3 separate regions of the Homo sapiens genome follow, and regions 1 and 2 are each linked to region 3. The links come from fine-mapping of genetic effects on gene expression. A gene starts in region 3. Each other region holds a variant in brackets. All regions are shown on one strand. Distances are between the middles of the regions.

Region 1 (8,184 bases), 21 kb after region 3:
TACAGTGGCTGGGGCAGAGATCTAAAGCAAGTAAAGGACCAGACAGACGCTGAGAACCTAGAAGGAGCACACAAAGCCTAATTCAGCCTCATGACCTTGACTTCCTCTTCCAGAAGTGCCTGGACACAGAGCAGTGCACCTTCAACAGCACAACTCGGCCGTTAAGGCTGCACCAAAATTCATTCAGGAGCCCAGCCCTGGGCAAAGCAAAGCCTCCTGCCCCCCAGGATGCAGCACTTCTCTGGTTTGTCTTCAGGGGCTCCAATGCAGCTGTATCTGCGGGGAAGCTGGGGGTCAGGACGCAGACCACAAGAACCCACTCTGTGAGGGGTCACTGCTTTCAAGGACACCAAAGGGGACCCTCATCTCTGCGTTCCTTTCTTCCACCATGATCCCTCTCTGCTTCCTCTCCTGCCATGTGGGGTGGTGAGAATGGGGACAAGCAGGGCGGACCGAGCACTCTTTTAATAGGAAACAAGGACTCGGAGGTGACCAGCTGCAGAGGTGAGCAAAGCTCCAGAAGGACTCCAGCTTCTGACCCGGATGGCTGAGTGCCACCACCATTTCAGGGAACACTGACCAAACAGAAGATTCCACGCTGCTTTGCTGCGGTCATGTCTGAGTTTACCCAAGAGGGGAAGCTGCTCCAACAGAGGAAGTTAATTAGACCAGACAAGAGCGGGGAGCAGAGGTGGAAGACAGGGATGAGACAAGAAACTGTGGAGGACAAAAAGTAAGATGAAAGGAAGGAGGGAGGCAGGGAAGGGAGGAGAAAGTGTGTGTGTGTGGGGTGTGTGTGTGGGTGTGTGTGTGGTGTGCATGTGTGTGGTGTGTGTGTAGTATGTGTGGAGTGTGTTGTGCGTGTGTGTGTATGGTGTGTTTGTGTGTGGTGTGTGTGGTGTGGTGTGTATGGTGTGTTTGTGTGTGTGGTGTGGGTATGTGGTGTGCTTTTGTGCATGTGGTGTGTGTGCATATGTGTGGTGTGTGTGTGGTGTGTAGTATGTGTGGTGTGTGTGGTGTTTGTGTGTGTGGTATGTGTGTGCATGTGCATGTGCAGCATATGTTGTAAGAGGAGGTGGGAGAGGAGTGGGTGACACATCAGAGCCGTCACTGCAATGCTGAGCCCCTGGCTGTGGTGATGACTGGCCACAGCGCAATTCAGCAGTGGTGTCTTTGCAGTCAGCTTCCGTGGTCAGCACAAGGCAAAAATCATGTGGAGTCAAGTTATCTTGAAAATTCCCTTAGAAAGGCACCACACTGGAGACCCGCCAGTCTCCGGGGAGCCCCATTCAGTACTATTCATATACATTATTTTTGTGCACTCCTATGAATCTGAGAACTAGAAGGACCCAAGGAGTCCATCTTCCTTCTCTGTGGTTCTCAAAAACAATTCTGAGGAGCTGAACCATTGATATGGTCTGAATGCTTCTGAGTAAGTTTCTCTCAGCTCTCAGAGATTGGTTTATCACCTAATGTTATCCAGCCAGACGGACTTCCTGCGAAGCCCACACTCTCTTCCATGCTGCTGTTGTCTTAAAATTGTCTTAGGAGGGAGAGGCCTATATCACGGGTCCCGCCCCACCACTAAATAGCTGTGTGTGCTGGGAACAGTCGCTTCCCCTTTCGTCCCCAATCTCCCCTTCTATAAAACAGAGCCAGACTAGATGAACTCTAAGAGCCCAGACAATGCTCTGCTGAATGAAAAAGTGCTTTGAAAAGTCCAAGTACTTCACAAACAGAACGTGTCAGTATTGGTTAGCTCTCACAGGTCAGAAACGTTGGTGTCTTCCGTCTTGCCCCTCAAGTTCATCCTTCATGTCAGTCCTGCCTCATCTACTCTGGAATATTCTCTAGGACTCGCCCCCTTCCTCTCTCCTGTTGCTGACCTGCCAGGTCCTTTAGCAGGCCTCCTCACTGCCTTTCTCTGGCCTCTCCAAAATTATCCTATTTTCATCGATCTACAGGAGAGATTTCCACAAAACTCCACCTTCACTGCATCACTTCACATCACCTATGTAATGGCAGGACTTCCAGAGCTCAGGTCCCTGGCTCTGCTCTGCCACACCTACCCCTCCAAGGTAGATCATCGCCGTGACACTGGAGTGAACATCTCTCCTTTCCTTATAAAGTTGACCCAACTTTAAAGACCAGAAAAATCCTGCCTCCTCCAAGGAAAGTTTTCTGTGGTTTTAAGATACAACTTTCTTGTTCTGAACTATAAATGTATCCATGGTTCGTAAACCAACACAGTTAAGATCTTGGATATTCTCTACTTGTTTAACAAACACTGTCTCTCCCAATAGCTTATAAATTCCCTCAGGTCAGAAAATAAGCTTTATTTAATATTTGCATCACAATGTCAGTGGAGCTGAAAATTCAGCGAGGGCTGCATTGCCTTACTGCCTGATGGTGGAAAGAAAGATCTTTGTTATCTCTCCAGCCCTTGACAACTCACAGGGAATGTTGGGGTACAGAGGAAGGAGAGAAGAGGTGGAATTAATACCCTCCCAACTCCTAAAGTATCTTCCCGCCTGTTCCTCCCTGCTTTCACCCACTCTGGTGGGGGAAAGAGCCCCCATCACAGGCTCCAATCCACCTATTCTCTGAGGCTGAGCCTGAGCCCATCAGAACAGCATGCAGACAGCTCTATTTAGCTCCATTCTTCATGTTCTGATCCGCCCGTGTGATAGCAACAGCTGCTCACAGTGCCTGACAGTAGTGGGAAGATAAAAGGAAGAAAGAGACACATAAGAAAGAAAAGCCAAGACCAGTAGTCATCTTCTAATATATATTTCATACCTGGGCCCTGGAGGGAAATCTGCTTCAAATTAAGCCCCATCTGTTCTCAAGCCCCCAAAGAGGCAGAGCACCCATGAGAAGGGCTCTATACCCTGCCAGGGCACAGACACCAGTGAAGATTGGCAGCTGCAAAGAAGGATGGCATCCTTGAGGAAGCCAACAAACTGGGAGGTGGAGCCCCTGGCTGACCAGCCCATTCTTAGACTCAGAGCCTCTGCCCCACAACACATGACCCCAAGACCTCCCTGATAGGTAAGAATCACATAAGTATGTAATGGGTGTAAAATGGGGAGGATTGTCAGGAGATCGGCCCAATTCCCAGAGGAAAGCATTCCTGGCCATCACACCCAAGGTACTCAGCAATGCAAGCATAACCTAGCATGCCTAAACCCACCTTCCCCACTACTCCTGGCTTCTGGCCACTCGGGAGCAAATACACCTCTGCAAAAGTCCCAGCTTTTGTGCTCCCCACAGCCAGCCCCCACCATCGTCTCTCCAGATCTTCTCCTGTTTATAAGATGCATTCACTCCTAATCTCCACTTCCAGACACACACACACACCCTTGGGTAGACACAGGGCAATAAGCCTACCTCTCAGGCTCAACTTCTGGGCTGCACACAGTGGGGTGGCTTGCTCCCGTAATCCCAGCACGTTGGGAGGCTGAGGCAAGAGGACTGTTTGAGCCCAGGAGTTCAAGAGCAGCCCGAGCAACACAGCAAGACCCTGTCTCCATAAAAAAAAGATGGAAAAATTAAATTCTGTAGGATTCACTCCCTAAATAATTAAAAATTTAAACTTAAATTTTAAAAAACCAGGCTTAACTTCTACCCAGTGTGTGTTCATGCTCCCTTGGGCCCTTTCTGCTTGCAGGAGCTGATGATGCTGGGTGCACTCTGAAAGATTTTAAACCTGGTAAGGATGGTAATGCCTTCAGGGGCCAGAGGATGCCTTCACAAACCATTCAGAGTGTCAACAGAGCCAGACTGGGGAGACGTCCAGTTATACCAAGACCAAGAGGCAGATTCTCTCATCTGCCTCTAAGCTCCTTCCTCACAAAAGGTATCTGCCACACCCATCTCCAGTGCCAAAGATGGATCACAGCCGACTGAGCCGACTGTCTCTCCTCCTACCCCTCACCCCCGCCTTCCAGAGTGACAGCGAGACAGGAAAGCAAGTTGGAAAATTTTTAAAAGAACCAACACCTCGGCCAGGCACAGTGGCTCACGCCTGTAATCCCAGCACTATTGGAAGCCGAGGTGGGCGGATCACAAGGTCAAGAGATCAAGACCATCCTGGCCAACACGGTGAAACCCCGTCTCTAGTACAAAATACAAAAATTAGCTGGGCATGGTGGTGCACACTTGTAGTCCCAGCTACTCGGGAGGTTGAGGCAGGAGAATTGCTTGGACCGGGGAGGCGGAGGTTGCTGTGGGCCGAGATTGTGCCATTGCACTCCAGCCTGGCAACAGAGCGAGACTCTGTCTCCAAAAAAAAAAAAAAAAAAAAGAACCAACACCTCATCACAATCCATGAAAAGCTAGCTCCTGGCTCTAGGACTGCAAGAAAAGGGAATTCCACCTTCAAACTCCTGGTTACCTTCCATGGCTGGTCTCAGTGGAACTAGCATTCCTCCTCACAGAGGCATGAGGCAGCCACACCCCACACAGCCCCAGAGCCCAGAGGCAGAGTTGGGCAGAAAGGAATGCAGATAGTTTCCCAGAAGTGTCTGGCCGAGAAGGAAACCAAGAGCTTACCCACAGCTTCCTGGGCCCTGACTGGGAGGCACTGGGTTCTCACAACAAGGATTCTGGCAATTCAGGGATGGTGAGGCCCTTGTATGTGAAAGCCCACAGGAGGCGAGGACACAGTGGTGGGAAGAGGCCCTGACAGAACAAGCCTGGGCTGGCCCCAGACGGCTTCCAGTAAGCAGCGGCTGCACTTGAATGTCAGCAAGGGTCTTAGGGAGACCCGAAGCAATCCAGTCACAGGGGAGCCCAAGGCAGGCACGCAGATGTGAGGTCGGATCCTCTTAGCATAGGCTTTGGCGTCACCTGCTTTCCAGGAAGCAGGCTTCATTTTCTAACACATCTTGAGGGAGGAGGGCAAACCGGAGGGGAAGCCCAACATCTGACAGGCCAGCAAAGCTGGTGAGCAGATGGG[C/A]TCTAATGCCTCCCAGCTTGATTCTCTCAGTCATGCTTCAGAGGTCATAAGGCTTTTTTTAGTCCTACTGTTAGTACCACAGCTCCCAGAAGCCTGTGCTTCCTCCAAATTATGACCCTGTAAGGCTCTGTTCTAGGATAAGCACAGGAGAAGGAGCAGAACACAGAAAGAGTTATTAAAGATGCCTTCCTGTTATATACTAAGTGTCCACGTGAAGGATATCAAAATAAAATAATAAAATAATTTTAATTTAAAAGTGGATTACATCATTAACTGTTTCCTTTGCAAGGAAAGGGCAATTCCTAATACAGATTCCATAAAATCCAGATGACACTTCCCCTTCTCATATACGACCTGGACTCTGAAAACCTTAATCAGTTGCTAGCATTAATACAAAATACACACAGAGACACATATAGACACACGTCTGTTCTTCAAAGCTTTGTTCGGGAAGCCAAAGATACAAGAACCCTTCCAACTTCATGTCCCTATGGGGATAACAGGAGGCACAGAGTTAAATATGGTTTTTCCCAAGCAAAGACCTTGGCTGCGAATAGGATTAAGGGTGGCTCTGGACACCCCCACATGCAGGAAGAAGGCTAAGCACCTGGAATCTCCCCTTCCTCCACAGCACCAGTAAATGAACTGATGTCATCTCTCTGGTAGCCAAACATGTCTGTCTCCCAGCCCCTAGGATTTCACCCATCCTTACCTCAAAATTGCATAATAAGGGTCTGCAGCTGGTTAGTTCAGTTACTCACAGCCTGGTGCCAGTGAAGCAAAGGTAAAAAGTTGGCTACTTAGAGCCATTAGTTTCACCTTACCCTGTGGCCACAGATTTTAACTGTTTAAACCTAGATCAAAATGCATGCTGCTTTTTTCAGAGAGACAAGACCAAAGATGAACTCAAAAAGAGCATCCCTGGGCACCACAGAAAGAAGGACAAAGATAAAATCAGCTGTGACTGTACTTCTTTGGAACGGGATGACACATGCTGATCCCCAAGCAAGAACATCTGGATAAGCTTTCCCACCCTCACAGGAAATTTTCAGTCACCTGGAACCTAGTACAGTTTGGAAAGTCATTCTATTTTCCTGAACTGTTCATTCCACAAGGAGATGCTGCAGTTTACACACAGTGCACTGGGACATCTTCAGTTTTCATAGATTAGCAGCATATGCGTCCTACAGGAAAGGTCTGTAGCTTTAAATTAGACGCTTTCCATCCTAAGACCTGATACAGCATTGCAACAAGAATGTATTATTTCCTTGTCAAAAATCAGAGGAGATAACTCCACTAACCCCACTAAACAGTAAGTTTAAAGAATGCGATCCTGTCATAATTACATCATGATTTTCAAAGTGGGAGAATTTCATTGGGTTTTAAGCTCAAGTTTTTCCCAGTGTGACACACAGTGCGAAAAAGAAAAGAGCTTAGGCAAAGTTAGGCATGGCACATTCCAGCTCCTCTAGCCGAGACTGAAGAAAACAGACCTAGCTTTCCTGACCTGCTCCCGGAAGCCCTTGGAAGCACTTTTCTTCCTCTTCATGCAATGGGAACAGAGTCAGTCTCTTCTAGAGCAACTTCACCAGCAGGGGCCAGAGGGTGAACAGACTGTGTTTTCACTAAAAGCTCCTTTTTCAGGCAGTCGCCCTTTATAGGTTGAAGACAGTTTTCCACAGAAACAACACCAGACATGGTAGCCAGATGCGCAGACAAGCTCATTAATGAACAACATGGCTGAAATACTGTTTATACATAATAAAGACACAAAACAATACCTCTGTAAATACTAGCAATAAAACAAAATGTAAGAGGAATAAAATTATATCATTTTTGGCCAGGCACGGTGGCTCACACCTGTAATCTCATCACTTTGGGAGGCCAAGGTGGGCGGATCAATTGAGCCCAGGAATTCAAGACCAGCCTGGGCAACATGGCAAAACCTATCTCTACAAAAATACAAAAATTAGCCGGGCATGGCGGTGTGTGCCTGTGGTCCCAGCTACTCGGGAGGCTGAAGTGGGAGAATTGCTTGAGCCCAGAGGGTGGAGGCTGCAGTGAGCTGAGATCGCGCCACCACACTCTAGCCTGGGCAACACAGCAAGACTCTGTCTCCAAACAAACAAATAAATAATAATTTTTACGTGTTTCAAATTGTGGTCCTGGAAGAAGGGCAGGTTAATTAAAAGATGGATATCTGGGGGGAATCTTTAAAAGCATTCTCAAGAACAATAGTGATGGCACTGATACTTCAAACCGTCTACTTTCATTCCCAAATGTCTGACTGTCCTTTCAGAAGTATTCTTGGTTTCACACTTTACCAGCTATGATCAAAGCTAGCTTTTATCCCACAGGCAAAAAGGAAAGGGGATAAGGAGGGTTTTTTGGGAGGCAATTAAGCAAAATCATAAGGACAGAAAGAGAAGGAAAGATGGGGATTAAAGAGGATGTGAGTAGGATCTGAAGAACACTTACCTGAGGGAGACCTAAATTACCTGTGATTGGTGAGAGATATAGAAGCCAGCTGGTTCATGACTACTGAGAATCGGAGTGCCAGGGAGGACGCACTGGATATTATGTGACAGATACCAGTTGGATCACCTGCCTAGGACAACTTAAGATCAAAGAATGGGGGAAAATACCAAATGCCAGACACAGGCTCACAACTCTTATCCAGCCCCAGATCAAACTATTACTTCAACCAGACATCGTTGGCATTCGCAAGGAACACGTCTACAGAGCCTACGGGGAATGCTCACTGCCTGTTCTCCTGAGCTGGCTGGCTGAGTACCGATCTATCTAAAGAAAATAAACTACCCCAGAGTTCTATGTCACCTAGCTCTAACAGTCTCAGGAAAGTAGGAGGCATCCTCATCGGGGATGTAGGTCACAGTGGAGTTAGGGCTTATGGAATACATAAAAACATGGTGAATATAGGGCCGGGGATGGTGACTCATGCCTGTAATCCCAGCACTTTGGGAGGCCGAGGTTGGTGGATCAGGAGGTCAGAATTTGGAGACCAGCCTGGCTAACACAGTGAAACCCCGTCTCTACTAAAAATACAAAAAAAAAAAAAAAATTGCAAAATAACAGAGAAGTCCTACTTGAAAGTATACAGAATCAATTATGGAGCTCTTCTGCCCAGAAATATTCTACTTAGCTCCACAACTTTCTCTAGCAAGTTTCAGCAGCCTGAGAGCCTCCCAGGGTTGGGCACAGCA
Region 2 (8,184 bases), 35 kb after region 3:
TTCCTGAGACCAAAGAGTTTATACAGTTAAATTCTTTACAGTAAGGGTGATTTCGTAAATGCATACATTCAGTTTGATTTAATGTTTAGGACTCTGTAAAGGCTTCTCATGTAAGCAAATTCAAAAATCAGGACAAAAATCCTGTACTGGCCTAAGGATCTCAAATTTTGGCTCCAAAATTAGAGTTGCTCTTCTTTTCTCTCTTTTTTTTTTGAAATGCAGTCTCACTCTGTCACCCAGGCTGGAGTGCAGTGGCGCGATCTCGGCTCACTGCAACATCCGCCTCCCGGGTTCAAGCAATTCTCCTGCCTCAGCCTCCTGAGGGGCTGGGATTACAGGCAAGTGCCACCACGCCTGGCTAATTTTTGTATTTTTTGTAGAGACGGGGTTTCACCATGTTGGTCTCGAACTCCTGACCTCAGGTGATTCGCCCACCTCGGCCTCCCAAAGTGCAGGGATTACAGGCGCGAGCCACCGTGCCCGGCCGGAGTCACTCGTCTTAATAACAAGCTAAAGGCCCTAATTGAGCATGTGGCCAATGTGGAACCTTAGGCTGCAGCACTAAGCCCAATCAGCCCATTGCTACTAAGTACAAAACCTGCAAGAGGAACAGACTCTCAGTGGGCCTCAATTTCTTCCTCTAGCAGAATGTAAATAAGAATCTCTGCATTTGTAAAAATGTCCAGAAGATTACTAAGATGGAAAACAGTCACTGGGAAGGAAGCACCCCTTCAGGGGTCATTCTTGGCCTCACTTGCTCATGCCTGGCCCTTGGCAACAGCTACCTCCACAGATCTCCAGCCCCACCACCGCCTCTCCTTTCCAAGCCCTCCTCTCATACGGAATACACAAATCCTGTCACAAATAATACGCTGTCTGGCTGCCGTAAATCACCATCCTGCTCATGCCACCCCTGTGCTTTCCCCCAAGGTTGATCCTGATATTCTCTACCTCCAGACCCTTTGCACACACCACTCCCTCTTCCCAGAATGGCTTCCCTCCTCTGTTTGCTAAGCCAACTCCAACAGTCCCTCAAGATGCCGCTCCCACGGCACCTCCTTTGGTTGCTTTCTCTGGCCATGGGCTTCCCTTGCATCTTCTCCTCAACATTCTTTGCTTTCCTCTGGTCAAACATCTGTATCATACTCCATTGTAAATGTCTGTTTATCTTATGTGCCCTAAAAGAATGTTATATTACCCTCCTTACATTTAATATTTAAATTTTTGCATCACAACCAGTAGTAAAGACGTACTTTCTGCCATATTCTAAATATTGGCATTTTATAAATATTTACAGGCCTGGCACAGTGGTGCATGCCTGTAATCCCAGCACTTGAGGAGGCTGAGGTGGGAGAATGGCTTGAGCTCAGGAGTTCAAGACCAGCCTAGGCAACATAGTGAAACCTCAGCTCCACAAAAAAATCGAAAAGTTAGCCAAGTGTGGTGGTGCATGCCTACAGTCCCAGCTACTTGGGAGGCTAGGTGGGAGGATGGCTTGAGCCCGGGAGATCGAGGCTGCAGTGAGCCATGATTGCACCACTGTATTCCAGCCTGGGTGACAGAGCAGAACTCTGTCTCGACAAAAATGTTTTATTAAAAATAAATAAATATTTACATTTTTAAATTAAATACAACATTACTCTCTTAAATGAATCTAAATGATCCAATGGACTCTAAATGCCATAGTGGATCATCTATTTAAAAGAACATACATTTTATACTATGCCTTTTTGTTAACTCTTACTTCCTTTTATTTCGTTTTCAGAATTTTATCCTAATATTTATGCTTCAAAATCTTTTACTGATCAACCTATACTTCTCTGCAATATATATATTAGTATTATACATATATACATATAAATGCATAAATTTTTAAATTCTGCTATGATTATAACCTCAATTTTTTATTCTATTTATTTTATTTTTTTTTAGAGACAGGGTCTTGCTGTATCACCCAAGCTGGAGTGCAGTGGCATAATCATAGCTCACTGCAGCCTCAAACTCCTGAGCTCAAGCAATCCTCCTGCTTCAGCCTCCCAAGCAGCTAGAACTACAGATGCCCACCACATTGCTCAGCTAATTCTTTCTATTTTTTATTTTTGTAGGAACAGAGTCTTGCTTTGTTGCCCAGGCTGGTTTCGAATTACTGGCCTCAAGTGATCCTCCTGCCTCGGCTTTCCAAAGTGTTCAGATTACAGGTGTGAGCCACCACATCCAGGCTATAACTTGTAAATGTTAAAAAAAAAATTCTTCTTCTGGATTGGGTTTTCATTATCTTTATTGTTTGAATATGCAAATGATCAAAACATAATTGGTTTAGAAATTGGTACTATTATTAAACATAAAAAGTAAAATTTTATTCAAAATGCATTAATTTTTCATTTTTATAGTGGTAAGCACCAAGAAACCTTGTTCACATAAATAACTAAACAGAAGTGACAGTCTACAGCCATACTACCCTGAATGTGCCATCTCGTCTGATCTCAAAAGCTAAGCAGGGTCAGGCCCCGTTAGTACTTGAATGGGAGAAGTAAAATAAATTTTGCTATAGCAATATCAGTATCTTTAGAATCACAAGTCAAAATCATGTCATGACCTATAATCAAAAATTATTTTTAATTATCTACCAACTGACAATGCCTTCAATTTTGTTGAAAGCAAGAATTGGAAACCATCTGACTTAGAAAAGGATTTGCTACTCACAGTCATTCACTTTCCTAATAATAGTCCTAATTGTTCCTTTGCTTGTTAATCTGGAGGCTTTCACACATCAGGCACACAAACAGCAAGACTCCAGATTAATAATGACTATGTCTTCCTTTTGTAAAGTGGGAGAAGAGTGATTGAGAAAGGAAACACCTTGAGTGCAACTGAATTCTCAGACAGATCAGCCTTTGGAAAGGGGACATAGAAAGTCAAGGATCTAGAAAATATACCCTGTCTGAAGACTACTAGCTTATCTGCCTCTCCCACCAAAACAGTGGCATTATCAAAATTAACATTAAATTATGTTTATTCGTGGATAATTACTGTTATATTTTAACAGAAAGAGACTGAAGACAGCCTAAATGTGCTCAATAAAGGTCTGATTAAATAAATTACAGAGTGTCTAGAAACCAAAAATACACGGTTTCTCTTCAGGACTGAATCAAGTCCCTTCAGAATCAGGGCCCACACTTTATTCCCACAGCCTCAGCTCCTACAAGCCCTTCGAAGGTCCTCATGTGCATCATTCCCCACTGCAAGTAATGGTTTCTAGATGGGAAACCATGGTCCACAGAGCAACACAGACAGGGACGTGCCAGAGGACATAAGGACAGTAAGACCTAAAGTGTACTGCTGAGGCTTGTTATGAACACTCATGGAATTGCAACCTGGAAGCCTATGTCTGGGGAAAGGGAGAGGGGACAGTGTCTATGCTAAGAGAACAAGTAGCAAGGAGCCAGAAGAAGGCTGAGTGTGGTATGAAGGAATAAATACTCAAGAAGCTGGTAAGGCTGGTGACATTGGAAGGAAGATCCCCCAACAGGCTGCTGGCCCTAGAGGTCAGGGCGCTATCTATCCTTGGAAGAAGACAAGTGGAGGACAGTATCATCCGAACCAAAGCAGCGCCCAGGCTGAAGGGCCCACTGGGCAGACACTCCAAGAGAAGGCTCATGGTCATCACAATGGGGAGGAGGGGAGAAGAGGAGTGAGCCAAGACGCGGCTGCTTGCGGACAGGGCAGAACCTACAGATGGGAACAAATGAACCTGGTTTCATAAAACAGCTTCCCTCCTCTGTGCCCCAGAGTAGTCCTCCCAGTTAAAGTCCCCTTTCTCGTTCTCTTCACCAAGTCAAATCCTGCCAACCTGCCAAGGGCCAAGATGATGCCCCTTGTTCTCCATGCAGCCTCCTCAAACACTTCTGCTTATAGTCAGTTCTTCTACCTCTAAACCCTCATCATTCTCTGTTTATACCAGAGGCGGCCTGCAATATTTCTAAACCGCTCCATGATCCATTTGTATTTTGATATTAATCCTTAGCTCTTTGCTGTAGGTGTTTGATGCCTCTCTGAAGATAAGGCTTGTGACTTAGACATGTTCCTGTCCCACAGGGTGACCCCTCAATGCTTTACTGTGCGGGACACCTACTTGCTTACAGTTCCAATG[GAC/G]ACACACTGTCTCCTGCCACTCATCCAAATGTCTATCTCTTTCACAAAATTAAAGGTTCATTATATACATGTGGATTCTGAATTCTTGGGTCTTTCATAGTCTTTGGCTTAGGGCTTCACACTTGCTAACCACTCAGTGAAACTTCTCCAGAGTCAGTCATTCAGCTGCTGCTCTACCTGAGGCTGTAGCACCAATGAGCCAGCTCTCCAGAGACACGCCCACATGGTACAAACCACGTTCTAGTGGAGAGCATTCTCCCATCATGGGAGGCTCTCCCTTCAAGCTAATCTTAACAAGAATGAAATGGGAATTTGGAATTTCGTTTCCCTTATACAAAGTCACTTCCTAAAATGGGGGGATTATAATTAGGTGATCATTAATTACACTCGCCATTACAAAATTCAAAATACCTCAATTCCTTTACCTTTTATAACGAACATAAAGTGGGATCTCAATAGTATATTTAAAAGAATTTCTCACAAATCTCAGTAAATACAATACAAATAAAATAGTTTGAAACTATGAAAGAAAGATCAGTAAACAGAGAAGAATGAATATATAGGAAAAGGGTATAAGCAGTCAAAGAAAACAAAGCTTAACGATAGAAAAGAAAAGAAAAGCTAATCCCTGTAATGGAATGCCTTCCTCACAGCAAGCTCTCAATATTTGTCATCAAATTTACAGAATGGCTGATATTGATTCTCAAGGCAATGAAACAGACTACGCAAGTGCTGGCTGCAAAAGAAACAGAAACGTAAGGTCCATACTAAATGAACTGATGAATGCAATAAAAACAGAAGTGATGCTACAGAAAAAACTAATCAGAAAAAGATATAAAATACAAAAATATATTTTTCAATAAAAGATTCAAAGCATGCACAAGATGACAAGCACAAGAAGGAATGCAGCTCAGAGAACTATCCCGCAAATGATCAAAGTCTTTGAACAAATGGCCTCAAATCTATAAAGTTTAATAGAAAAAAATGCTATCTAAAAACAACAGAAGGATTTGCTCTGAGTACAAAAGATGTACAAAATCATCAACCAGAGACTACCACTATGACATTCTCATATTTTTAAGCATAAGAAAAAGAAAAAACTCAGCAGGCTGAGAAGACCCAAATCCAAATTTCTTCCAATTTTGCAAAGGATACAATTAAAGTCCAGAGATGCATATAAAACTCTCAGAGAAAGTATTTTTACCTCCAGTGTAACAAGGTGAGTAGACTCTTTGAGCAAGTGAAAAAGAAATATCTCTTAGAGCTTTGATCATACCTGAAGAAATTTACCCATCACACACTTCACTTTAAATTATGTCCAAGAACAACTGTAAATGAGACTTAAATGTTTTAAGTTTTACAAATAAGACCAAAGAACCCAAATCAATAATTTCCCATTAAAAATAATAATAAAATGTTAAATAGGGAAAGAGCAATTGTCAAAAACACATTATTAATAAAATAGGACTGCAGGCACGTGCCACCATGCCCAGCATTTAAATACCAGACAACATTGAGACAACTGAGGACATTTAAATATGACCTGAATAACAGATGATATTAAGGAATTATTGTTAGTTTGGTTAAATGTGAGAGAGTGGTTATAGATTTTTAAAGTTCTTATCAAATATGCTTCCCGAAATATTATTGGGTAAATAACATAATGTCCAGGAATGGAGGAGAAAGATAAAATTGGCAAAATGTTAATAATATTTGAAGCAGATTAAGAATATATGGAGTTCATTATACAGATGGGAACAATGGCTATCATTATTCATAATAGCCAAGATACTGAATCAGTTCTCCTGACTTTTGTGCATATTTTGAAATAAGAAGTTTTTTAAATTAATATTTATTGGGTATCTACTGAGTACCAGGTATTGCTTAGGTATTTGACACAAAAATAAAATGGCCTCAAGAAAAAAAAAACAGTAAAGCAGATTCTTAACCCAGGGTTTATCCAGGGAAATATCCATGATTTCTATGGGTGGCTAAATCACAGGTACTGCCATTACTGCTGTTTTATTGCCTATATTCATAATAAAAAAGAAATACTAAATTTCAATCGGGGTGGATGAAAATGATGTAATTTTTTTTTTCCTATCCAAGTTGCAGACCCTTCAAATTCTACCCATGGACCCCCAAGGGTTGCACCATTCTGCAAATATTCACTGAACACTTAAAATAAGACAGTCACTGCTAAGCACTAGGGATACAAAGGTGAAGAGAATACTACAGGCCGGGCGCGGTGGCTCACACCTGTAATCCCAGCACTTTGGGAGGCCAAGGTGGGTGGATAGCCTGAGGTAAGGAGTTCAACACCAGCCTGACCAACGTGGTGAAACCCCGTCTCTACTAAAAACACAAAAATTTGCCAGGTGTGGTGGCAGATGGCTGTAATCCCAGCTACTCAGGAGGCTGAGGCATGAGAATCACCTGAACCTGGGAGGTGGAGGTTGCCATGAGCCGAGATCACACCATTGCATTCCAGCCTGGGCGACAGAGCTAGACTGTCTCAAAAAAAAAAAAAAAAAAAAAAACAGACAGAAAGACTGAAGAGACTGATAAGGCCAGGCATGGTGGCTCATATCTGTAATCCCAGCACTTTGGGAGGCCAAGGTGGGCAGATCACTTGAGGTCAGGAGTTTGAAACCAGTCTGGCCACATGGTGAAACTCCATCACTACTAAAGATACAAAAATTAGCCAGGTGTGGTGGCAGGCACCTGTAATCCCAGCTACTCAGGCGGCTGAGGCAGGAGAATTGCTTGAATCCAAGAGGCAGAGGTTGCAGTGAGCTGAGATCGCCCCACTGTACTCCAGCCTGGGTGACAGAGGGAGTCTCCATCTCAAAAAAAAAAAGAAAAGAAAAGACCAATAAGGCTGGGTGCTGTGGTTCATGCCTGTAATTCCAACACTTTGGGAGGCCAAGGCAGGTGGATCACTTGAGCCCAGGAGTTCAAGACCAGCCTGGGCAACAAGGTGAAACCCCGTCTCTAGAAAAAATACAAAAATTAGCCAGGTGTGGTGGTACATGCCCATAATCCCAGCTACTCAGGAGGCTGAGGTGGGAGGATCACTTGAGCCAAGGAGGTCAAGGCTGCAGTGAGCTGTGATCGTGCCACCTCACTCTGGCTTGGAGGACAGAGGGATACCCAGTCACACACACACACACAAAAACTGATAAATTTCACATTAAATTACTAAAAATTTTTGTATGTGGAAAACAAAGTTAAAAGACAAACTGTGAAAAACATATGTAGTATATATGAGTTGTTCTTAATATTTTAAAAGTTGGTAAAATGCATTAAATAAAATATAAAACTGCTTGATCTGATAAGGGGTTAATACCCAAAATATATAAGGAATCAACACAATAGTAAGAAAACAACTTATTTAAAAATGGGCAAAGGACCTGAACAGACGTTTTTCAGAAGAAGATATACAAATGGCCAACAGGTATATGAAAAAATGTTCAACATCACTAATCATCAGGGAAATGCAAATTAAAACTACACCGAGATAACACCTCACACCTATTAGAATGGCTACCACCAAAACGACAAAAGATAATAAGTGTTGGAGAGGATGTGGAGGTTGACGGGAATATAAAGTGGTACAGCCATTCTGGAAAACAGCATGGAGATTTCTCAACAAATTAAAAATAGAACTATCATATGATCCAGCAATCTCACTACTGAGCATATATCCAAAGGATATGAAATCAGTATGTCAAAGAGCTATCTGCACTTCCATGTTCATTGCAGCATTATTCATAATAGCCAAGATATGGAGTCAACCTGAGTGTCTATCAACAGATAAATAAAAAAAGAAAATGTGGTTTATATACACACAATGGAATACTATTCAGCTATAAAAAAAGAAGGAAATCTTGTCACTTCCTACAACATGGATGAACCTGAGGACACTATGTTAAATGAAACAAGCCAGGCACAGAAAGAGAAACACCACATGATCTCACTTATATGCCGAATCTAGAAAAGTTGAACTCATAGAAACAGAGGGTAAAATAA
Region 3 (8,184 bases):
CAGTTCTTAGAATCAGATGCGGTGGGGAGTGGGGCACAGCCTCTCTTAGGTCTAGGCTACCAGTGGGGCCATGATACTTGGATTGCCCTCCTGAATCTGTACACCCCGCCCTTCATTCCAGGGAAAGAGGCTGAACCAGCAGAACCAAGGGTGTCCTTGGCCTGTTCTCCAGTGTATTTCAAAGTTTCATCTTCCCGGGGTGACTGATATCTAATTTGAGAGAGAGAGAGCCCAAGGGGAGAAGGTACAGGAAGCGGAGTAGAAGGAGGAAAGAGGGAGTGAGAACAGGAATGTTACTTTTTAATCCTTAAGGAACATAGACAGATCCAATTTGTGACTCAGCTCTGGGAAGCCGGACTGATGGGAGTCGGGGAACAGCTGCAGCCCCAATCTAAGCTGTGGGCAGCTTCTCCTTCAGGCCTTAGAGGCTGTTGTGACATGACTCAACTAGAAGGGGAGCTGCTTGTTTTGTTTCATTTTTTTAATCTGCCTACTATGGGTCTGCTCAAGGGCTTCTTCCCAGACACCACTCCGGGATATGGCTGGCAGGTCTTCCCCATCCTACAGTAAAGCTGGGGCTGTGGGTGACGCGCTCTAGTATGCCATACGCCCTTTCGACTCAATGAGGACAGACCTGGGACTCTCCTTGCCTGGAGTCTCCCTTCCCCTGCTCTTCCATTCCTTGGCACAGTCCCATGGCATATCAAGAATCTCTGCCCTTGGAATTCCCACTTCCTTGTTTCTTTTTCTTTCCCCATAAGCTGTGGCCTTATGAGTTCCTGAAAGACCTGCCCAGCCCCCAAGAAGCCTTTCGGAGCAATAACACTTTCTCCCAGTTAGAACCCTGCCTTCTAAACCCAGAATGAAGGAGAAAGACCCCTTTGCCCACTGCAGAGTGTGCCCAGCAGGACCCAGCAGGATGAGGGAACCAGGCCTGGCCTCTTTTCCAGCTGCTAAAGTTTATGGTGCCACAACTCTACAGGCAGCTGTGGGACACAGGAAAAGCGACGGGTCTTTTGGAATACCTCTCCTCTATACTATATATAAACACATGAGTCAGGTGACCAAGGAAAGCTTCCTCCCTGCAGGATCGTCTATGAGGCTCCAGTTTTATGGCAAACATCACTCTTATGAAACGACCCAACCCAAGGAAAGCAACATTTGTTTCCTTAAACATCCTGAAGAAGTCTTTTCAGATTTTTCTCATGTTTACTTATAAATGCAGAAAGGAAGAAGGCACTTTATAAAATGAGAGAACCAGAACAGAGAGGCAAAGTGACTTTCCAGAGAGAGTTGGGTCATTCCTCAAGCTTCAATTCACAACACGGTTCGTTAGATAGGACGTGACTTGTTTCAAACTACTTTCATGGAAGTTATCCCACTGGCTCCTCCCAACAGTCCTGTGAAGTTGTTCTTATTACCTCCATCTCACAGGTAAGAATCTGAAGCTCCTATTAGTTAAGATACTTGCCCGTGGCCGCCCTATGGGAACAGAATCTAGCCGTCGACTCAAGTCTAGCAACCCAAATCCATTATTCTTTCTGCTATACCAACAGAAGGAGCAGCAGCTCCTGAAACTGGGTCTCTGCTAGCCCTCTTCACAGATGTGGGGATGGTAAAATTGAAGAGCTCCAACTACACACACAAGTAGAAAAGAAGGCTGAGGTTCTGGATTTACACTGCCAACTGAAGGGGCCACTGGCTCAGTGTTATGCCACATCCCTCCAGCAAAATGTAGGTTTCAACTAAGCAAAGGATCCCTGGAGTGTATGTAGCAAGAGGAATAACTTCAGAAGTGGACCGTCTGAGGTCCAGGGCCATGGAGTTCACCCTTGTGGACCCTCAGGCCACAACCACGATGTATACATGTACTCATTTTAGGGAGCCGGAACTGGGGACATGGCCAGTGCTTGCATTGGCAAGCTGATCCGAAGTTAATCAGAATGCCCCCTCATTGTTTGCCAGAATACAAAAGACATTCTGTTCAGAAAGTTCAAGAAGAAAAACTGAAGAACCAGGACAGCAGCTGTTCCCTCATCCCACAGAGAAACCAAAGGCATTTGCAAAGTTCCCTGAGGCCAAGAAGTGAATTTAAGACATAACATGGCTCAAGTGGAAGCACAACCCCTGATGGGTCTCCGTTGCAGGAAGTGTTTGCTGCATTCATCCTCCTCATAATATTACTGACAACCCCACTACCCTATCACCTATAAAACTGCCTTTCTGGGAGGGTCTCCTTTCCAAGGCCACACAGCTCACCATGTACCACTCCTCTAGGTCAGAACAAGTTTTACCAAAACTTAGGACAATCAGTGTAGGAGTGCACAGCGTGGACACTGCGTGCCCTGAGATTTGGTCAAAATGTAACCAAAGGAATCCACCCGGCACAACTACAGTGCCTCATGTTCCCCAGCTCTTAGCAGCTGCTGCTGAGAGCTCACTCTGGGACATCTGGATGAGAAACCTGTTTGCAGGCCCCCCAACCCCAAGCCAGCCCCCTCCTCCACCTCTTAGGAAAGTCTGTGATCGACCTTTTGATGTGGGAGGACAGCTTGATTCTTACCAAGCTGCCTGGAAGAGAGAGAGTGCAAAACCCCAGCTCAGGCATCCCTGTGACAGTCCCTCTGTCCTAATAAATGCTCTAGAGGGACTTGGAACTCACCACAGGCTCCTGGCTGAGCTTAATTAGCCTTTTTTTTTTTTTTTTTTCCATTACAGGTCAGACATAGCAGCACCAAGAGACAAAACAGACAGTGTTCACTAGGACGAACAAGCGGCTCAAAAGGCACTGGAGTTTCCCTGTAAGAACTACAAACACCACGGGAGTGATGTTAACTCAGATTTTTCCATATAAAAGATTCTTCCTGTAAAAATATCCTGTGCCTTTGTGCTAAATAAAAGTAAAATGATGCTTTTTAGAGTGAAGTCTAAACACCTCAGATTCAGCAAGAGTGAGATCAGCTAGATTTGCAAAGTCAAGAAAATTGGCTGTTTCCCTCCTCCTTAAGCTAATAGAATCCAACTGTTGGAGCATGACATCATTCCTGAGCCCCAAACCCCGAGCAGAGACTACAGACACTCGCCTGACTCCCAGAAAACAGCCGGAGAGAAGGGCCAGGAAAGGAGGCCAAATGATCCCAGCCCGGAGCTGCCCTTACCTGAAAGTCCCGCTGCTTTCCTGCCCACTCCATTCTCACACCGCAGCCGGCTAGGGAGCCCAGGGCCCCCAAATCCACTGGCTTAAGCTCCGATACCTGCTGCGAGCTTCCCACAGCTCCTTCCTCTGACCTTTCGTGGCGCTCCTCGCAGCCAAGTGAGCAGAGCACTGCTAGCCGGCCAGGCCGGTTGTCATGGAGACCCTGTCCTCGCTAGGCGGGCGCGCGCACAGCGGCGCGCTCTTGGCCTAGCGCGTGCACAAGGGCGCTCTCTTTTTCTTTCTTTCTCACTGTCTCTCTCTCTCTCTCTCTCTCTCTCTCTCTCTCAGTTCTGGGAGGCTTCCATGAAACAGCACTGTCTTTTGATCAGCTCGGTTTTTGCATGCATTCCACTCCTCCTACCTCCCTTCCAGTCCAACAGGGGCTCTGAACTGCTCCTGGGAACTTGCTTGAACAGCTCAGAGGGGAGAAGGGAGAAGACAGTGAGTGGACTTGTTTTCTTCCCCTCCAGTGTCTCATTTTTTATAACTTGGAAGAATCCCTGCCAGGGGGGAGGGAGCTAGCTGAAGCGCTTGAAGGGGACCCAGCTTCCTCTGGGTCCTGGAGCTCGGGTAGGAGGGACCCTGATGCGCTGCCTTGACTTGTTTGTGCACTTGGGATTTTTCCGGGCAGCAGTTGGGGCGGAAATGCACTCACATCCCAGGAGCTCGCCTGGACTGGCCTCTCTGCTTACCTTGCTGCCTGTCCAGGTTGTGGCGATGGCTTTAACCAGTGCAGGGACTCATGGTACTAGTGGTGGCGCCTAAGCAGTCTCTCATCTTCCTGAAATGGAGAGCAAAGACAACTCGGTCAGGACCAGGAAGAATCCTGGGCAAGTCGAGAGTCACAACCCAGACGACAAACCTGATACAAATACAGCCTTGTCTCTCTGCCCTGCTAAGGATCTGCAGCTAAGGTGCAGGCTTAGTGGGAGCTGCTGTCACAGTCGGTAATAATATTGCTCCTGTCAGAAAATGAGCACAGTCCCTGGGACACGGCAGACCCCCTAAGTTTAGTCCCATCCCCATCCCCATCCTGTCCCTTCCTCTCCCCCCTACCCAGCATACATTTCTGCTTTGTAACATTCTTTTTACATGTATCATTTTGTTTGATCCTCATAACCTTTTGAAATACACTGCACAGATATTTTTATGACCATTTTTTCAAGTTTATTTATTATTCTTCTTAAATTTCTTTTAGAGACAGGATCTTGCTCCATTGCCCAAGCTGGAATGCATTGGTGCAATCATAGCTCACTACATCATCAAACTCCTGGGCTCAAACAACCCTCCTGCCTCAGCCTCTGAAGTAGCTGGGACTACAGGCATGCACCACCACGCCTGGCTACTTTTTTAATTTTTATTTTTATAGAGACAGGGTCTCACTATGTTGCCCAGGCTGGTTTTGAACTCCTGGCTTCACGCAATCCTCCTGCCTCAGCCTCTCAAAGTGCTGGGATTACAGGCGTGAGCCAGCATACTGGCCTTATGACCATTTTATAGATGGAAAAACTGAGACTCAGAGAGATTAAACATTTGATCTGCACTTATACAGTTAGGCAGTCAAAGAACTAAGAGATCAGCCAAGTTCGCCCTAGTCCAGCACACTTTCAACTAAAGTATATTGCCACCTGATTTCAAAAACTGTCAACTTTTTGATAACTGGTTATGAGATAACGCTGGGCTCCCAAGGGAAGGTGGAGAATCCTTGTAAGTTGTGGCGAGATAGGCTGACTACCATCCTTTCAGCCTAAAGACCTTAAGACAGCATCTCTAAGATGTAAAACGTCCTGATGCACAGCTCGGAGAAAAAGCCCTACCCTACAGCTATATGTGACCTTGCACTTTTCTAAACGACTCTCAAAATCTTGGCTCGTCTGTTCAACATGACAGGTCTGAAAGTTAGGATTGGCATTATTATACTAATTTAACAGATTTTTTTTTTTTAATTCTACAACAGAAGTAAAATTACTTGCCCCAGGTCATGGAACCAGGAAATAAAATCTAGAAACAATCCCCAAGCCTTTCAAGTCTCTTGAGTACATTAAGCACAGTGGTTGCAACAGCACCAGGGGTCAGAAGACCTTGGCAGTGCCTGACTCCACCACTAACGGGCCATGTGCCATTGGGCAAGTCCCATGACTTCCCCCTTTCCACCTACAGAGCCTACTGACAGGGCTGGGACTGAGCATCGGAAGAGATGCTGTCCGTGAAAGCACTCTCAAGTCAGGAACTGAACTAAGAACTTTACTCCTCTTGACAACTCCTCACCAAAAACAAACAAAAAACACTGGGACAGTTAATACCCTCCCCAGGATGAGGACACTGAGGCTTAAGGAGGATATTTTCCAATGCTGCTCCCAAAAACAGTGCTCCCAAAAAAAAGGTCCTGATGTTATTTATTTATTTATTTATTGACACGAGGTCTTATTATGTTGCCCAGGCTGGTCTTGAACTCCTGAGCTCAAGCAATCCTCCCACCTCAGACTCCTGAGTAGCTGGGATTATAGGTGTGTACTACCACACCCAGCCTGATAGAATCTTTAATGCAACATCCTATGCAGAATCTAGTGGGTTTTTTTCATTAATTTCCAGCATATCACAACATTCTCAAAACAAGATTCTGATTGACTTGAGTTTAAAAGGTAAATATATACCAGAAGTTAAGGTAGGAAAGTGTTATAAAATCCAACAGGAAATGACAGAATGGCACAAATCCTAAATGGGGGGCACTACTGCTTTAGTGAAGCAATCAGAGCTTGAAAGGGAGTGAACCTAATCACCCACTATAAATCCCCAACCCCACCCAAGCCCCAGCTGAAGAATCCCAAGTCTACAAAGAAAGACAAAGAAAGACAAGACAGAAGGGCAAATGCAGTATCATCAAATCACTAAATTTCCGCCTCTTCCTTGTCCAAAAGGCATCCCTCTGCTCTCCTCCTGATCCTCAAAATGCACATTCCACTTGCCCAGTCTCCATCCTGAGAAAGAAGGGGTGATCCCACCCCTTTCTATAATAAGATAATATTAATAATACAGTAGTAACATCAGTTAACACTTGTTGAGCACCTACCATATGCCAGGCATTCTTTTAAGCAGTATGAGGGGCCAGGGGTCAGGACTGAGTACTAGAACTGATACAAGTCAGTTCCTGAAGTAATCCAAACTTAAGAAGCCCTCCAAACCAGACCCAGAATGCGGGCCATGCTCCCCCTAGTGGCATGCTGGAGTTATGGAGGTTCCTTAGGGCCTTGTCCTGGGGGAAGGGACAAAGGAAGGGCCCCATTACTGAGAGAACTGGAATCCCTGCTTGGGTAATGCTACTGTGTACACACTCCTTGAACTGGGCAGAGTCAGGGACAGCTGAATCCCACCACTGCCTCTGCAAGGCTGGATTTAGACCAATCCTACCTGACCCTTCTGAAGGATAAGGATTTGACAACCTTATATAAGCTCTCTGCTGTCTACTGAGAGGCCTGCAAGCATACATGTGCCAGAAACCTGGGAGACATCCTCAACTCTCCCTTCTTATTTCTGCCCACATCCAACCCATTTCCCAACTGCAAACAATTCTACTTCCAAAATATATCTTTTATCTGTCCACTTTTCTCCACCTCTGATGCTACCCATCTCTCACCTTAATTATTGCAAAAACCTCCTAATTGCCCCAGCTTCCACTCTCCCCTCACAAAGTCATTAGAGCTGTCTGAATCACCTTTTTTTTTTTTTTTTTTAACACCAGATCAGGTCATTTCCTGCTTAACACACTTCATTGACTTCCCACTACACTTAAGATAAAATCTAACTTCTTACCAGGACCTACAAGGCCCAGCATGATTCTCCTCCTGCCTTCTTTCAGCACACTTCCTGCCCTTCCCTGTCTGTGCATCAGCCACATACAACTGCTTTTAGTTCCCCTGAGGTGTCATATTTTTTCCAGGTTGTTTCCCGTTGCTGGGACACTCCCCTACCAAGCAGTCTTTGCCTGGATAGCTCTTACTCACCTTGCCTCACCTTGACTCTCCTGTCTCTTGACTTTCACAATCCTCCAATCTAAATGAGGCTCCCCACACTTATCCTTCAGAGCACTCACCATGCTGTGTAATTATGCATTTATACAGTTATCTGCTTAATCTCAGTCTTCCCTCAGAAGAGTTCCTTAGGATACGAACCTTGACTATTTTGCTAACCACCAATATTCCCTGCACTTTGTGCAGGGCCCAGCTCACAGCTGGCACTCAATAAATATCTGCTGAATGAAATGCATAAAACCCCATTTCTTCCTGTCCGACAGGAAGAAGAAACTTAGAGCAGCTATTTCATGTCACTCATTGCCTCTTTTCATCGACTTACAAACTATAATTACATTTCTTTTCCTCATGTGCCTTGCCTGTGGGCACAACCAAAAATTCCTGTAAAGCCTCCCTGTGGTTTGTTTCCCAGAACTTTCCTGGTAAGGTCACTCTCCTGGGGCTGCCCTCCAGGGTTTTACAGCTGCTCCCATTACCAGTGCCCACTCACAGGCCTCCACCACCACCGGGTCATTGCCAGACCACTGTGTAGGAATGGCCCAGCTCCCACGATGACAAGGTTCTCTCAGGCCAGCAGCTCCAAGGACAAAACACCTCCTCTCCCCTCCATGGTGCAAGACACTGTGCTTGTAAAAAAATACATTTTTACTAAAAAAAAAAGTCTTATGTTTCATAATTTGGAGATGGTTGTAAAAAGTTCAGAAAAAAAGGGTTCTCTTACTAAAAAGAATTTTGAACACTACAGTCTGGTGGAAAAATGAAGGTCTAAGTAACACCAACAGCAGTGTGACTACATCCAACGTTCCCTCTTCTGGCCTACGCTCCCACCCAAATCTGAAATCCTCTGGCTTCATCTCTTGCCCACACCTCCCCTGCTACCAACCACCCGATTACAGGCACAACCACAGTGCACTGCCTGGTTCTTTGAACACTGCCTGCATTTTCCTCTCCCTCCCTCTA

Alleles and levels. Positions count from the first base shown, and alleles are read on the strand shown. Sizes are in standard deviations (SD) of each study's normalised expression. Not every link is listed here.
As copies of C replace A in region 1, the expression in lymphoblastoid cells of the gene that starts at base 3,316 in region 3 goes up (moderate effect, 0.66 SD a copy in GEUVADIS).

Evidence for each region. PIP is the estimated chance that this variant, and not a neighbour inherited with it, causes the effect.
Region 1: its variant is the best candidate, but not a certain one, in a credible set for the expression of DENND2B in lymphoblastoid cells (GEUVADIS, PIP 0.76).
Region 2: its variant is the best candidate, but not a certain one, in a credible set for the expression of DENND2B in whole blood (TOPMed, PIP 0.54).

What each region holds. Positions count from the first base shown.
Region 1 is chr11:8,828,166-8,836,349 of GRCh38, forward strand. It overlaps a transcript of DENND2B not described here. Among named protein-coding and RNA genes, the nearest start is that of DENND2B, 22 kb to the left of the region's middle. RefSeq lists enhancers at 395-894, 3,675-4,476, 4,426-4,745, 4,477-5,277. The variant C/A (reference allele first, on the strand shown) is at 4,961.
Region 2 is chr11:8,842,822-8,851,005 of GRCh38, forward strand. It overlaps a transcript of DENND2B not described here and the pseudogene RNA5SP330. Among named protein-coding and RNA genes, the nearest start is that of DENND2B, 36 kb to the left of the region's middle. The variant GAC/G (reference allele first, on the strand shown) is at 4,151.
Region 3 is chr11:8,807,359-8,815,542 of GRCh38, forward strand. It overlaps DENND2B (DENN domain containing 2B), which reads right to left and starts at 3,316. Exons shown (of 20, transcript NM_213618.2): 1 at 3,159-3,316. It overlaps DENND2B-AS1 (DENND2B antisense RNA 1), which reads left to right. Exons shown (of 5, transcript NR_120590.1): 5 at 2,719-2,918.